Regions from separate parts of the Homo sapiens genome. Here region 2 is linked to region 1. The links come from fine-mapping of genetic effects on gene expression. Tissue or cell type: whole blood. Region 1 holds a variant in brackets; the other region holds the start of a gene. All regions are shown on one strand. Distances are between the middles of the regions.

Region 1 (8,102 bases):
GTGGGGTGTCCCTGTGACCTCGCGGTCTCCCCCTTGTTGGGGGGGAGTCTGAGACTGAGGTGCCAGATGGCTTTCCGGGGCCCCGAACTCAGAAGTTGAGAAAGAGAAGCTTTAGAGAAATTCCTGTATCACCAGCAGAAAAGCCCGACCCAGTTAGATCAGGCAGGAAACTGAGGCAGAGGAGGAGAAAGTCTAGATTCTAAAGAAGAGATAGCAGGTGAGGAGGGGGTTGGGACTCAGATTAGATGAGAGAAGAAAGGAAGAAACTGAAGGGGAAAAGGAGGAAGGATGGAAAGATAAATGGACAGACAGGGCTGGGGAGAGGAGTTGGAAGGAAGGGTCACCTTCTCACTCCCCGTGTGGGCTTTAATCCCTAACCCTACCCGGGAAGGGGCAGACGTATTCAAACCCTACTATTCTCTATTCGAACCCTACTATTCTCGGAGAAATAAAAAGGAGGAGCAGAGTCCCAGGAAGATGTGAGCCAGTGCCCCGATGTGTCAACATAGGACACCCTCTGGACACAGAGCCTCTTCCCCACCAGAGATCAGCGCCAAAGATAGGCAGAGGGGCTGCCTGAATCCCCCAGCTGCTGCCCTCAGGAACCCCTGGGTTCTGACTTCTCCATGTCCTTTTTAAAAATAGTCCTGCAGCCCAGCTGAGGCTCTGGTGTTCCTGGGTCCAGCTCCCCAGTCTCCTTCCCAGTGCCCTGAGGGGCTGGGGGCAGCAATTGGAAGCCCTAACCAAGGACCTACCTCCACCCTCTCAGGCCTCCCTCAGCCCAGCCTCCCAGGGGGTGGGGCAGACCAGGGAGAGGCGCCATGTGGCAGGGGCGGGTAGAGGCTGCGGCTCTGGTCCTTCCAGTATAAACCCCCTAGGCATCTGGTTTCTATCCACCACCCCCCACCACCCTGGGGGCCCCTCAGCCTCCGCCCATGGCCACCCAGACGCTGAGCTCCAAGGGATGGATGCCCCAGACGGAAGGGGTGGGATGATGCCTTTCTGATATCCCAATGCCAGGACTGGGCTGAACCACAGGAACCATTCCCTTCCCACCCTCCCCTAGGAGAATCAGGGTGGGCTTTGTAGGTTAGAGGGGGTTGAATCTGGCACCTGCCTCAGTTCTCCAAATGATTTTGGATCTTTTTGGAAAGATCAGTGGGGTGAAAACAGAATGAAAACTGGGGAGAGTGGGGCCGGGTGCAGTGGCTCACGCCGGTAATCCCAGCGCTTTGGGAGGCCAAGGTGGGTGGATCACCTGAGGTCAGGAGTTTGAGACAGCCTGGCCAACATGGTGAAACCCCGTCTCTACTAAAAATACAAAAATCAGCTGAGCGTGGTGACGGGTGCCTGTAATCCCAGCTACTTGGGAGGCTGAGGCAGTAGAATCACTTGAACCCAGGAGGTGGAGATTGCAGTGAGCTGAGATCATGCCATTGCACTCCAGCCTGGGCAACAAGAACAAAACTCCATCTCAAAAAAAAAAAAAAAGAAAGAAAAAAAAAACTGGGGAGAGTGGGAGACCTGTACCCCCTATTCCCAAGGGATGCTACTTCCATCGTCCACACCATCACCCTCTACCACCTTTCTAGGCTGGGCTGTCTCTAAGAGCCTCATCCAAAGGGACTCCCAACTCTTCATTGTTGCTGTTATAGAAGGTTTGACTACCCTAGGGAGAATCACCAGAGAATAGTGAGCAGAGCCCCTGAAATAGAGACTGACACATGCCCTAATACATACCTGATGACAGACACATTCAGATCTGCATACTTGCACACACACAAGGTGACACATAATTCATACACATTTGTACTATGCAGGCATCCATATTGACACACACTGATATATACATATACAGATAATGCTTACCCCAAGACACCCTAACCCCCAATCATAAAAATGCACACACCAGTATATATATACATGCATACAGACTCACAGCCACCTAGAATACTCCCCACATGGACTCACAGACTCCCATCAACACACGTATCTACACATGTGGCAAATGTCACATACATATACCCAGGGCTACCATTACAACTTTACAGCCCTGGAGATCTCTGTGGTCTCCTAAAGGGCATTTGGGAACCCCTCTCCCTATAAGGATCTGGAGATAAGGGTGATATGGAGGCCACTGCCAGTCCTGCAAATTGCTGCCTCCAACTCCTACTAGTATAAGAAGTTCCAGTGTACCTTTAGGTACTTTTGATCCAATACTCCACACACACACCAGAGTTCAGAGACCCAGATGGCCCCAGCGAACTCCCTGGTCCTGGGGAACCCCAGCATCCCTACCCCCACCCAGGCCCCCGCTGCTCTGCGGCCCCGCTGACTCATCTCTCCCTCTGTGGAGCTCCCCAACCACAGGGGCCTGGAAGAGAAGCTTGGAAAGTTGCGCTCATGTCCCGGGCCCCTGGTCTGGCCACTACCCGCCCATGCACCCAGCCCAGCCCTTGTCTCCAGTGGATACTCCAGCGACAGAGAACATAGAGGGGACAGGAAAGAAGAAGGCACGCAGAGACAGGGAAACAGAAAGACACAGGAGAGACAAAGAGGAAACAACAAATGGTGGGCATACAGATGAGAGACCCTGAGGATCAGCTACTAGTCTGTTGGGTCCTCTAAGAGCAATGGGGCTGATGACCAGGAAAGCTTGCTCCTTGGGTTGAAGGAACATCCATTCATGGCCTCAGGATTTAGAGACTGCCGAGTGCCTTGACCCAGCATTTCTGACACTAGGCTCAGGGTACTTGGGGAAGAGGATCCAATTTTAGGAGGCAAAGCTGAGGACACAGGGTAGAAAGGAAGCTTTTAAGAGGCTGGCAACCTTTGTATAGGACAGCTTGGAAAAGGAGTTCCTCACCCCAACAAATATGTACACAAATTTACAGGTACAGACAGACTACAACTTCCCTCCCTCTCTGCTAGGTCTCCCCATCCCCTCTTCCAGCACCAGGGCTGCAAGGCAGGACCTCTGGGACTGACTCTGGCTCCCCTCTTCCCTGAGCCTTGGGTTCCTTCATTGACATTGAGCCCTGATATAATTCAGCAGCTTTAGGAGAGGCAGATCAGAATCAGAAACAGAAGTGCCATGGAAGGAGCAGGAAGGAATCTGGATGGCAGGGGACAAAGTGAAAAATGAAAGGAAGAGGAAGACTGGGGTCTGATTCTGAAACAAGGGGACCTGTCCTGGATGCCCGTGTCTAAAATGGGACAACATTGAATTAAGTAAGAACCTGGTCATCTCTAGAAAATGACCCTTTGTAAAAACGATACCCTAGAATCTGATCCATGAAATATACTAGTGTCTTTCATAAGAAGAAGTTGGGGTGATGGAGTTCTGATCACATCATCCCTAGGAGTGAGGCTGAGCAACTCAAGGGAATGGTCCTTCAAAATCCTAAATACAGGCCTGGTGAGGTGGCTCACACCTGTAATCCCAGCACTTTGGGAGGCCGAGGTGGGTGGATCACCTGAGGTCAGAAGTTTGAGACTAGCGTGGCCAACATGGCAAAACCCTGTCTCAGGCTGGCCGAGGTGGCTCATGCCTGTAATCCCAGCACTTTGAGAGGCTGAGGAGGGCGGATCACGAGGTCAGGAGATCGAGACCATCCTGGCTAACATGGTGAAACCCTGTCTCTACTAAAAATACAAAAAATTAGCCGGGCGTGGTGGCGGGCGCCTGTAGTCCCAGCTACTTGGTAGGCTGAGGCAGAAGAATGGCGTGACCGGGAGGTGGAG[C/G]TTGCAGTGAGCCGAGATCGCGCCACTGCACCCCAGCCTGGGCGACAGAGCGAGACTCCGTCTCAAAAAAAAAAACAAAAAACAAACAAACAAACCCTGTCTCTACTAAAAATACAAAAATTAGCTGGGTGTGGTGGCGCGTGCCTGTAATCCCAGCTACTCTGGAGGCTGAGGTAGGAGAATCACTTGAACCCAGAAGGCAGAGATTGCAGTGAGCCGAGATTGTGCCACTGCACTCCAGCCTGGAAGACAAGCGAGACTCCATTTAAAAAAAAAAAAATTCCTAAATACACACGTCTCCCCGCTTTCTCTGGCCTGCTGCATTCTTCCTCGGAGCCCAGATTTTTGAAATGTGGAATGAACTTAAAGAACATTCTTTCATTCAACAAATGTTCAGAAAGCACCTACTTTGTGCTAAGCACACTGGGCTAGACTTAGGCATGCAATAACAAGCAAGACAGACTCATCCCTTCACCTCACAAACTAACCAGCAACTAATACAAAAGAGTAGGAAGTATCTCGATAGAATAAGTACTGGAGGGCCAGGCGTGGTGGCTCACGCCTGTAATTCCAACACTGTAGGAGGCCAAGGTGGGTAGATCATAAGGTCAGGAGTTCGAGACTAGCCTGGCCAAGATGGTGAAACCCCATCTCTACTAAAAATACAAAAAAATTAGCCAGATGTGGTGGCAGATGCCTGTAATCCCAGCTACTTGGGAGGCTGAGGCAGAGAATTGCTTGAACCTGGGAGGCGGGGGTTGCAGTGAGCCAAGATTGTGCCACTGCATCCCAGCCTAGGTGACACAGAGAGACTCCGTCTCAAAAAATAAATAAATAAATAAATAATAAATAATAAAAATAAAATAAAATAAAAAATAAGTACTGGATGTTATAGGAGACAAAAGAGTAAATCTAAGCCAGTGTTGGGGGGGAATTAAGGAAGGCTTCCTGGAAGACAGCATGACTAAGTAAAGAAACTGAAGGACAAATAAGAGTTATCAAGTAAAAAAAGGAAGAGTGGTGCCAGTGCAGTGGCTCATGCCTGTAATCCCAGCACTTTGGGAGGCTGAGGTGGGTGGATCACTTGAGTCTAGGAGTTTGAGACCAGCCTGGGCAACATGACGAAACCCCATCTCTACAAAAAATACAAAAAAAAAAAAACATAGTCTGGGTGACAGAATGAGACCTTGTCTAAAAGAAAAAAAAAAGGAAGAGTGTTGTAGGAAGGGGGAAGAGTATATGCAAAGGCTCAGAGGTATGAGGGATTAACAACTTTTGAGATGCTGAAAATTGAGTGTGAGTGCAACACAGAGTGGAGGCTGATGGAGAAGTTCTAATCAGCTATGCAAGGGGCCTAGACTTGATCCAAAGGCAATATATGAGAATACTCGTATATTAGAGAAATGACTGACTTCAGAGAGGAGAATGAAATAAGGGCTTAGAGCCAGGCGGTTCTGGGTAAATCAGGCATTTACAATGGTGCAAGCTTGGGTGAGCTATTTAACCTTTGAGGCCTAAGATTCCTCTCCTGTTGAAAGGGGCAACTTAATATGGTAACCTCCCAGGGTTGTTACAAGGATTAGCAATAAAAAGTGTTGAGTTCTTAGCACAGTGTCTGGCACTTAGTAGTTGCTCCATAAATGGTGCCTAGCAGTATTGTCACAGTTGGGAGAAGGGCAAAATCGGAGGCAAGGAAACAATCTGTTGCAGCAGTCCAAGCAAGATGTGGGAAGGTGTGGCCTGCAGTAGCAGAGAGGATGAGCAGAAGTCAGTGGAGGGGGCCAGCACGGTGGCACATACCAGCACTTTGAAAGGCCAAGGCGGGCAGATCACTTGAGCCCAGGAGTTTGAGACCAGCCTGGCCAACATGGTGAAACCCCTTCTCTACTAAAAATACAAAAATTGGCTGTGCCAATTTTTGGCACATGCCTGTAATCCCAGCTACTTGGGAGGCTGAGACATGAGAATCTCTTGAGCCTGGGAGGCGGAGGTTGCAGTGAGCTGAGATTGTGCCACTGCTCTGCAGCCTGGGCGACAGAGCCAGACTCTGTCTCAAGAAAAAAAAAAATAAAAAAATAAGTCAATGAAGGGGTGATATTGAGGATGTGAGGTGGAGAGGATTTGGTGTCCAATCAGATGTGAGGGGTGAGTAGTCACACATGACTTCCCTTGATCTGTGTGTTGATGTGTGCACTTGCACACAGGATATGCAGGCATTTTAGAGGTATCTATTCAGTTCTGAGAATGGCTCTTGACAGTTGCTGGATCCGGCCAACAGTGAAGGGCCAGGGCAGTATCTGAGGACCTGGCCCTCAGTCTCCCAGAAGAACCCCCGCCTCTGCCCTCTGCCCCAATCCCTCCTGAACTATTTCCTTTCCCCCTTTTCACCCATTTCTCCCTCTCCCCACCTTCCATCACCTCCCCTACATAGGAACCCGCTGTAAGTTATAAGCCTACCTAGGCCCACTTTCCACCGCCTCAGTTAATGAAGGTCCTTGGGACTCAGCTACCAACATTAACACCTCCTCCCCACATAGCCTCAATGGGACGCCCCCCTCTGGATTTCAAAGCGCTGTTCAATGCCCCCATCCACCCCCACCTCGCGTGGACGTGTGAGGCAAGAAGGACGGTTGAAGCTGAGGCAGGATTTGGGGGGTCTTAGCCCCCAGCCACAGCTGTGGGGGAGATAGGCACCCTCAGAAGGACAGGACAGGTCGTGAGCTCCGGGGCTGCTGGGAGGTCTCTTGCGGCCTAGGCCAGGCTCAGGGCCGCCGGGGATCTCGCCTCCATCCCGTGCCTCAGTGTCCCGGCGCGGCCGAGGGGCGGGCGGCAGGGGGCGGGGCGCGGGCGGGGCCGGCCGGGCCAGGCGCCCGGGCAGGAGGCAGCTGCATATCTGCGGTCCCGACCACAATTGCTGGGAGTCGCGTCCCGGAGACTGGCGGCGCTGACTCTGCCCGCTGCGGCCGCCGCGCCGATTAGAGCCCGAGAGGGAGCGCCAGCCCGGGGGAGGGGGCGGCGGCGGGGGAACTCCGGATGCCCCTTCGCCTCCGCCCAGCCAGCGCCCCCCGCTGCCCGGCCCAGTCCTTTCTCAGCCGCCCGAACCCAGGACCGGAGTCCTGCCTCTTCCGCCGTAGCTTTCTCGAGGCTGCATCCAAGCTTCTTCCTCCGGATCTTGCAGTGCCCGAGGTCCCGACGGTGCCAACATCCCGTTGGCCCCCAGCCTGCCAGTCTCTCATGCCCTTTCTCTTCCCCATCACCCCACACAGAGAGGAGTAGGGATCTCAGAGCTCCCCCATTCTCTTATCCTCCGCTCCCCAATGCACTCTCTAAGCAAAAGCCGTTCCAAGCGAAGAAGAGAATCAGAGACTCAGAGGACGGGCTTTCCAGGGCCGGAGCACCCCCTGCTGGCTGGCCCGAAGCCCCTCCCCCTCCCCCTCCAGCTGTGACCTCCAGCTGTGGTGGCTGGGAAGAGCTGGCCCCTTTGATCTAGGAGCGTGGCAACCCCCTCCAGGCGCCCCATTAACCTCCATTATCCCAATTAGGCAGCCCTCCCAGTCCTGGATCCAAGCTTCAAAGCCCCCTCAGTTGGGAGAAAAGGGAGCTGAATCGTATGCCCCCTACCTCCCCACCAAGCCACACCACTTTCAGACAAGACCCAGGTGCTCTGGTCTCCAGCTTGTGTACATGATAGCAGGGCCAGAAGAGGGACCCTCAGGGGCCACCCTCGTCCCAATACTGAAACTTCATTAAAAAGAGAAGCAGATAGGCAAGGGGACCCTCTTTTGCTGGCCCATTTTCCTGCATTCAGTGATTTCAGTGGCAGCATCCAGGTTCCTGGCTGACCTGAGCTTCCCATCAACTTATCCAGCTTTATCCTGTGGAAAGGGGAGCCAAGAACCAACCCACTCCTCCCTTAATCCTATCTCAACACTCCCTTCCTCCCTCCCTCCTGGAACAATTTCCGCTGGGGGAGCCAGAGCAGGGCCCAGCACAGTGGCCGCTTCCTGGAACATTTTCCTGTATCCGAAACCGCGGCTCCCTCCCTAGGGACCGGCTGATCAAGGCCAGATGGGAGAAGGGATGGGGGAGGAGGAGAGGGAGCCAGGCTCTCACCATCACCCCCTCCCAACACATAGGCACACCACAGGAGCCCCTGCCCTGACACACAGAGGCTGACACAGGCACACACCACATGTCATAGTCACACCATGGGCATTCATGGGGACACATGAACCACAGAGGCCAGGTCTTAGAAGAAGTTAACACACCCGTAGATGATCACCCTCTCTCTCTACCTGGCCCTCTAAAGGACCCTAAGGCCTTTCTTGCCAGATAAGGAGACCTTAGGAATCCAAGAA
Region 2 (8,094 bases), 290 kb after region 1:
CCTAAAAAAACCTTAGGGGAAGGCAACATGTCAAAATGAGTAAATGTCAGAGAAGCTTAAAAATTATTTTCTTTGACATATTTTTAAAGAGACAGAAGACTTTTTCATGAACTCCAAAATCGTAGGACCATTTTCTGAGAAACCAACAACAAAAGAAATGAATGCTTTTTCCTTTTAAATGAATGCTGCATTTGTTTTTCTCAAAGAAACACCTGTACCTTAACTTTAGTACTTTTATTAAGGGATAAGGGACAATTATATACCAGTATGCTAACTAGTCTCAAGAAAAGAGCTAGCTTTATTAGACATTTACGTGGAGTTCTATCTGTTCCACCTAAAACTTCCTTGCAAGGAGAAGGCTCCTCCTTATCAGACGTGGATAGGAGGCTGCTGTAACACTAACTCCCTCCCACTGTAGCCTAGGAAAAACTCGGTCTTGACATGCACAAAACAATAACTTCTGAGAACTTCAGAGCAGCTGTGTTCAGACAGAGCCAGTGACTTTACTCCAGGCAAAGAAGTAGTTTAAGAGTTGGTTGAAAAAACAATTTTCATTTTGGGTTGGAAATGAGGAAAGGAAAGAGAACAAGATACAGTAAGTAGAGCTATTAACATTTTAAAACCGTGGTAAACAAACGTGTTTAAAAATTACAACACTGAAACTACCACAGGGTGTAAACTTTGATCCACAAGTTGAAAGATGAGCAGTGTTATCACTCTAGCTTTCTGCTAGATGGTAGCACTAGTGAGAAAAAAAAAATCTTGGGTTTAATAGTGCCCTAGTCAAAGCAATCACCAATTCTAGGGCAGAAGACCAAAACAAGGGACTCTGCTCTCTCACTGGGTAATTTTCTGTACTGCTGCCAGGCAAACTGGAAATGTTCTGAATGTCCAATAGCAATGCACTTACTGTGAAATACTAGAACCCAGCTCAGTAGTTAATGCTAACGGGTCAGCAATGAATTGGTCTCAATGTGCTATAGGGGCAACTTCTTGGCCAGGGAGAAAGGCTTCAGCTGATTGCAGAAAACCAAAGGTTAATACAACTACGTACTCTGGTTTCTCTTCATGTAATAGCTTTACTGATATTTCAGACATTATTTCCCTTCTCAAAAGTAAAAGGAGAAGAGAAGGAATGTAAAAGCAAAATCTACGCAAGAGCAAAGAAGTTATTAATTGGCTATATTAGTCCAATTCGTTATTAAATGATACACAACTATCAAACAAAGGGCAAAGCCCTGTCCCTTTTCTGTACAGAATTAAGAACTGGTAAGACTACTTAGCAGAGCTTGCAAACTTTTCTTTAGCTTCTTTTCTTACAGACATGTTACATTTCGCAAGAGCCTCCACTTACCTTACAACTTCCATGTGTAAGTACAAATTGTGTTTGATTTCCCCAGCCCTTGGCCTAAGATATTATGACATAGCTTTAGTTTCTGAGTCTGGACACAAAGGAAAAAACTGAACATTTTTCACTTTCCTGAAATAACATGTCTATTTTATTTACACTATTTAAAAACACATTATGTAAGTTAACTAAAACAAACTGCAACCACCCATTCGACAACTCTTCGAGAATGACTGGGGAAGCCACATTTAACAAAACAAACTTCATTTTAGTATATTTCTGCTTAGAATGCCCATAAAGACTGATATCGCTACAAGAATTACACTACTGCAAAATTTTTAAACACAGGACTCATGTGAGCTTGCTGAGAAAACTCTGCACACCCCCTACACACCTGTACTTAATATGACATGACCCTCAGAGATACTAAAACACCCTCTGTTAAGCAGAAAACAAACTTTTAAAGTTAGGAAAGTAGCAACGCGGGAATCTGGGTAGGAGGTGCCCTGGGTTGTAAACACCCCAGTCAGAGAACATAACAAGCAATTCAGAGCAACATATTAAGTCCCTATGGGGCTCCAACTTGGACTGCTTAAGTCCCAAGACCACATCCTGGTGTCTGGGAAGAGTTTGGGTAATAGAAGAGAGGGAGAAGGAAAATCAGAGAAGCGATGAAAGCGTTCTATTTTTCTCCTTCTCAACCCCCATCCCAGCATCTTGGAGGCTGGTCACCAGTCTGGGTGCCATATCCACCAGAAGCCCTAAATCAATATCCCAACCACCTGATACCTAGGCTAAAGACATGTGTATATCAGCCATCTCCTTCCCAAACACCTCTTATCGCTCTCAAGGCTCATATCCTTCCAGAAGCCATGCCTTATGGCGACTCAGCTCACCCATACTGTCCTCTTAAATTAATTCACTTAATTTTCTCCAAATCCATACTTTCTCTCTGATATCATGTCCCTGATGTTCTTTTAATTAATTCAATCAAAATGCCATGACCCTCATTTCCAATAATCCACCCCATCTATCTTTTCTGCCAAACCCAACGGGGTGTTGTGTCACCAGATCAAGATCTTTGTTCTCATCTACTCATTCCTACCTCCTTCCTATTACCCTTTTCCAATTCCAAGCTCCTAATCCCACTCTTTGGGAAGCCCTGGGTTTCTAACTTAGTTTAGTATCCCTCCTCTTTCTCCCATTCCACCCCATCCCATGATCCTTCCATTAGGCTCCACTAGACTACCCTTCCCTCAGGATTCAATTCCCCTCTCCTTGCCACGCCCTGTGCCCCCCGGGGCTACTTACACCAAGTTCTCCCCACACTTCAAGCCTCTGGCCCCGCCTTCCCCCCAAAGGAAGGAGGCGGGAGTAGGGAGAGAAGGGCGGCGCTCGGCAACGTAAAAGCGATCTCCCATTAGCGCTCATCGCCGCCAATCGAGGCTTCCTTCTCTCCCATTGGTCGGCTTTGGCCTATGCCCCACCCTCTTCCTCAGACAGGGCCCGGCCACCGCCTCAGCGCCCCCGTCCAACACAGACTGGGAGGGGAGACCCCAGCCTGGAACGCTGGGACTGGCCAGAGTTGAAAGGGAGACTCCCGTCAGATCATGGACTAGCTAATGTTAAAAGGACTTACCGGCTGGTAGCTCCGTTGCCTCCCGCCTGCCCGCGCTCGGTCCTACAATCTGTCTCCAGCTCCTCCTTTCCCCCCTTGGCGGAACGGATACTTTCCTCCCGTCCGGCCAGGCGCGCTCAACTCTCGCGAGAAGTCATGGGTCCGCGGGGGAAGGGCGAGATCCGTGGGGGCTGAGTTGGAAAGCGGCCGAGAGGCGGGGGCTCCGGGAAAAGAAGGGGCCGGGCTTACTGTGGGCAGGGCTGGGGAGGGAGACTGAGCGAGTACTGTCCACACAGGTCACACGTGTTCGGCTGCAGAATCTAGCGGGAGAAAGAAAGGAAAAAGGAGAGAGGATCTTTACAGGTGCCTGTAGTGGTGGTTACTACTATCTTTCAGAGTCATCGCTTCCTTAACGGCAAAGTAATTTAAAATACCCTTAGCGCTAGAAATGAAGTCCATGTACGGACAAAGCAATCCACCCGCACAGCAATTCTAACACTACCATTTTACTAGCCCTATTGCCTTGGGTGAAAACCTTCTCTGAGTCTCTGTACAATGGGACTAACAATCTCATTTTATTCAAATAGTTGTAATGATCAAATGAGATACATGAAACTGCTTGGGGATTTTTTAAAATCACTATATTATTCAGCAAATATTTTCACAAAACGTAGGGCATACTACATGCAAAGCATTGTTCTGCAGTCGAATGCTCTATCCCTGAGCTATACCCCCCGTGCAAAGCATTGTTCTAAGCATGGGGTTAAGGAGTTACCAACCCAGGTAGAATTTATATTTGAGTGAGGAAGGGGAGACAGTTAAAAAGCCAATAAACACAAATATTTCAAATAGTGAAAAGCGCTTCAGGATAGTGAGACAGAAGGTGACTAGGAGTGGGGAAGAAGCTTTACTCCTAGTGTTTGAGAGAAGACCTCTTTGAGGAAGTAACACACCAGGAGTTGAATTATGACCTGGGAAGATTTCGGGGGAAATATCAAATGCAAAGTCTATAGTCTTACATTTATATGTCTTGTTCAAGACAAACCAGGAAAAGAAAAAAGAAAAACAAAAAACAGGCTGGGTGCAGTGGCTCACGTCTGTAATCCCAACACTGCTAGGCCGAGGCAAGAGGATCGCCTGAGCCCAGGAATTTGAGACCAGCCTGGGCAACATGGCGAAAACTCAGCTCTACGAAAAAATATAAAATTAGCCGGGCATGGTGGCCTGCACCTGTAGTAGCTATTCGGGGGGCTAAGTGGGAAGATCGCTTGAGCCCAGGAGGTTGAGGTGGCAGTGAGCCCACATCAGGCCACTGCACTCCAGCCTGGACAACAGAGTGAAACCCTGTCTCGATAAATAAATAAAATAAATAATTTTCTTAAAATTTAACGAATTGTAGTTGACTTAAAATATTATCTATGGAATCTCTGTTCTCTCCTTTTGCAGCTTTATGTTACTCAGCTTTCTGAACTTTCTGTCTAGCATCTCATCTATCCTCACAGCACCCTCTGAGAGGTAGGAAGAATCTGGGTGATTTCTCCCTAGATACCTAAAATGAAACAGATGTAAAATCTTTCTTTCTTATGTAGTGAATTGAGAAAAGTTGAGAGGAGTCTTGGCTTCCAAACTATTCTCCCCTAAAACAATTCCTACTTAAAAGAATACAGTGATGGAAACATACCTTAAATATATAAGAAAAATTTGTATGTTGGCCGGGCGCAGTGGCTCACGCCTGTAAATCCCAGCTACTCAGGAGGCCGAGGCAAGAGAATCACTTGAACCTGGAAAGCGGAGGTTGCAGTGAGCCAAGATCCCGCCATTGCACTCCAGCCTGGGCAACAACAGCGAAACTCCGTGTCAAAATAAATAAATAAATAAATAAATAAATAAATAAATAAAAATAAAATCAGAGGGAAAAGGATTCTACAAATCGTGGTGGAACAATTGGCTATCGCTGTATACATGCAATAGCTAATATTTATAGATTTTACTATGTTCCAGGTACTATTCTAAATTGATGTTTTTTGTTTGTTTGTTTGTTTTTGTTTTTTGAGACGGAGTCTTGATCTGTCACCAGGCTGGAGTGCAGTGGCACGATCTCAGCTCACTGCAACCTCCACCTCCTGGGTTCAAGCGATTCCCCTGCCTCAGCCTCCCGAGTAGCTGGGACTACAGGCGCACGCCACCACACCCAGCAAATTTTTGTATTTTTAGTAGAGACGGGGTTTCACCATGTTGGCCAGGATGGTCTCAATCTCTTGACCTTGTGATCTGCCCGGCTTGGCCTCCCAAAGAGCTGGGATTACAGGCATGAGCCACTGCGCCCGGCCTTTTTTTTTTTTTTTTTTTGGCAGGGTCTCCCTTTGTTGCCCAGGTTGGAGTGCAGTGGCATGATCACTGCTGACTGCATCCTCGACCTCCCAGACTCAAGCAATCCTCCCAACTCAGCACCCCAAGTAGCCAGGACTACAGGTACATGCTACCATGTCCAGATGATTTTTTAAAATTTTCCAGGCCGGGTGCGGTGGCTCACACCTGTAATCCCAGCACTTTGGGAGGCTGAGGCAGGTGGACCACGAGGTCAGGAGTTCAAGACCAGCTTGGCCAACATGGCAATCCTGTCTCTACTAAAAATACAAAAATTCGCTGGGTATGGTGGTGGGCATCTGTAATCCCAGCTACTTGGGAGGCTGAGGCAGGAGAATTGCTTGAACCCGGGAGGCGGAGGTTGCAGTGAGCTGAGATCATGCCATTGCACTCCAGCCTGGGTGACAGAGTGAGACTGTGACTCAAAAAAAAAAAAATGTCTGTAGACACTAGGTCAGGCTGGTCTTAAACTCCTGGACTCCAGTGATCCTCCCACCTTGGCCCCTCAAAGTGTTGGGATTACAGGCATGTAAAGAGGCCCGGCCTCTTTATTGTTGAGTTATAAGAATTCTTTATATATTCTAGATACTAGATGCTTATCAGATATATGATTTGCAGATATTTTATCTCATTCTGCAGGTTAGTTGTCTTTTCACTTTCTGATAGTGTCCTTTGAAGCTCAAAAGTTTTTTTTTTTTTTTTGAGTTGCCCAGGCTGGAGTGCGGTAACGCAATCTCGGCTCACTGCAAGCTCCACCTTCCGGGTTCATGCCATTCTCCTGCCTCAGCCTCCGGAGTAGCTGGGACTACAGGCACACGCCACCACGCCCAGCTAATTTTTTTGTATTTTTAGTAGAGACGGGGTTTCACCGTGTTAGCTAGGATGGTCTCGATCTCCTGACCTCATGATCCGCCCACCACGGCCTCCCAAAGTGCTGGGATTACAGGCATGAGCCACCGCGCCCGGCCTGAAGCTCAAAAGTTTTATATTTTGATAAAGTCCAATTTATCTTGTTTGTGCTGTTGGTGTCATATCTATATCTAATAAACCATTGCCTAATACAGTATCATAAAGATTTACACGTGTGCTTTCTTCTAAGAATTTTGTTGTTTTTAGCTCCTACATTTAGGTCTTTGATTCATTATGAGATAATTTTGTATATGGTATGAGGTAGAGGTCCAATTTCGTTCTTTTCCATGCACAATTGTCCCAGCACCATTTGTTGGAAAAGATATTATTTCCCTCATTCAATCCTCTTGGCACCCTTGCCAAAACTCATTGGACCTTAAATATATTGGTTTACTTCTGGACTTTCAATGTTATTTCGTTCTTCTATATGTCTGTCCTTATGCCAGTATCAAAAGGCTTGATAATTTTAGCTTTGTAGTAAGTTTTGAAATTAGGAAGTATGAATCCTCCAATTTCGTTCTCTTTTTTCGAGATTGCTTTGGATATACTGGGTCCCTTACATTGCCACATGAATTTTAGGGTCAGCTTGTCAATTTCCACAAAAAAGCCATCTAGGATTTTAATAGGAATTCCCTTGAATCTGTAGATCAAGGAGTATTGCCATCTTAACAATATCGTATTCCAATCCACGGACATCGAATGTCTTAACATTTATTTAAAGCTTCTTAATGTCTTTCAACTGTATTTTTTGTAGGTTTACTTTGTTTTTTATTTTGTATTTTTTTGATTTTTAAATTTTTTTAGAGACGGGATTTCACCATGTTGCCCAGGCTGGTCTCAAACTCCTGGGCAACATGGTGAAACCCCATCTCTAATGGGGTTAGATCCACCCACCTTGGCCTCCCAAAGTGCTGGGATTACAGGTGTGAGCCACCTCACCTGGACTTATTTTGTTTTTTAAGTTAGAGACAGGGTCCCGCTTTGTTGCCTAGGCTGGTGTCAAACTCTTGGTCTCAAGCAGTTCTCCCACCTTGGCCTCCCAACGTGATAGGGTTACAGGCATAAGCCACTGTGCCAAGCTGTGTTTTGTGGTTTTCATTGTACAAATCTTGTGTTTCTCTTGTTAAACTTACTCATATTTTTTATTTTCTTTTTTGAGACGGGTCTCACTTTGTCACTTAGGCTAGAGTGGTGCAATCATAGCTCACTGTAACCTCCAACTTCTGGGCTCAAATGATCCTCCCACCTCAGCATCCTGAGTAGCTAGGACTACAGGTGCATGCCACCATGCCTGGCTAATTTTTTTTTTTTTTTTTTTGCTCTCCTGCCTTGGCCTCTCAAGGTGCTAGGATTACAGATATAAGCCACCATGCCTGGCCTCTTTCTTTTTTCAGTTAGAGATGGGGTCTTGCTATGTTGACCAGGCTGGTCTGAAACTCCTGTCCTCAAGGGATCCTCCTACCTCAGCCTCCCAAAGTGCTGGGTTTACACATATGAGCCATTACACCTGGCAAGTCTTTCATTATTAAGTGTGTTGTTAGCTGTTGTTTTTTTGGTAGCTGTACTTTAATCAAAGTGAGGAAGTTACCTTCTATTCCTAGATTGTTGAGTGTTTTTATCATGAAGGAGTGTTTGATTTTATCAAATGTTTTGTCTATTTAGATGATCATGTGGTTTTTGTCTCCTGTTAATATGGTGTATAACATTGATTAATTTTCATTTGTTAAACCAACCTTGCATTTCTGGGATAAATCTCAGTTGGTCATAGGGCATAATCTTTTTACATGTTGCTGGATTTAAGTTTTCTAGTACTTTGTTGAAGATTTTTGTGTCTATATTTATAAGAGATGTT

Evidence for each region. PIP is the estimated chance that this variant, and not a neighbour inherited with it, causes the effect.
Region 2: ATF7 starts here. The variant in region 1 is fine-mapped to the expression of ATF7 in whole blood (TOPMed, PIP above 0.99).

Annotation. Positions count from the first base shown.
Region 1 is chr12:53,338,250-53,346,351 of GRCh38, forward strand. It overlaps a transcript of SP7 not described here. Among named protein-coding and RNA genes, the nearest start is that of SP7, 5.9 kb to the left of the region's middle. RefSeq lists silencers at 6,613-6,782, 7,173-7,232. The variant C/G (reference allele first, on the strand shown) is at 3,745.
Region 2 is chr12:53,623,292-53,631,385 of GRCh38, forward strand. ATF7 (activating transcription factor 7) reads right to left here and starts at 3,091. Exons shown (of 12, transcript NM_006856.3): 1 at 2,988-3,091. ATF7-NPFF (ATF7-NPFF readthrough) reads right to left here and starts at 3,091. Exons shown (of 15, transcript NR_159377.1): 1 at 2,988-3,091. RefSeq lists an enhancer at 2,948-3,017.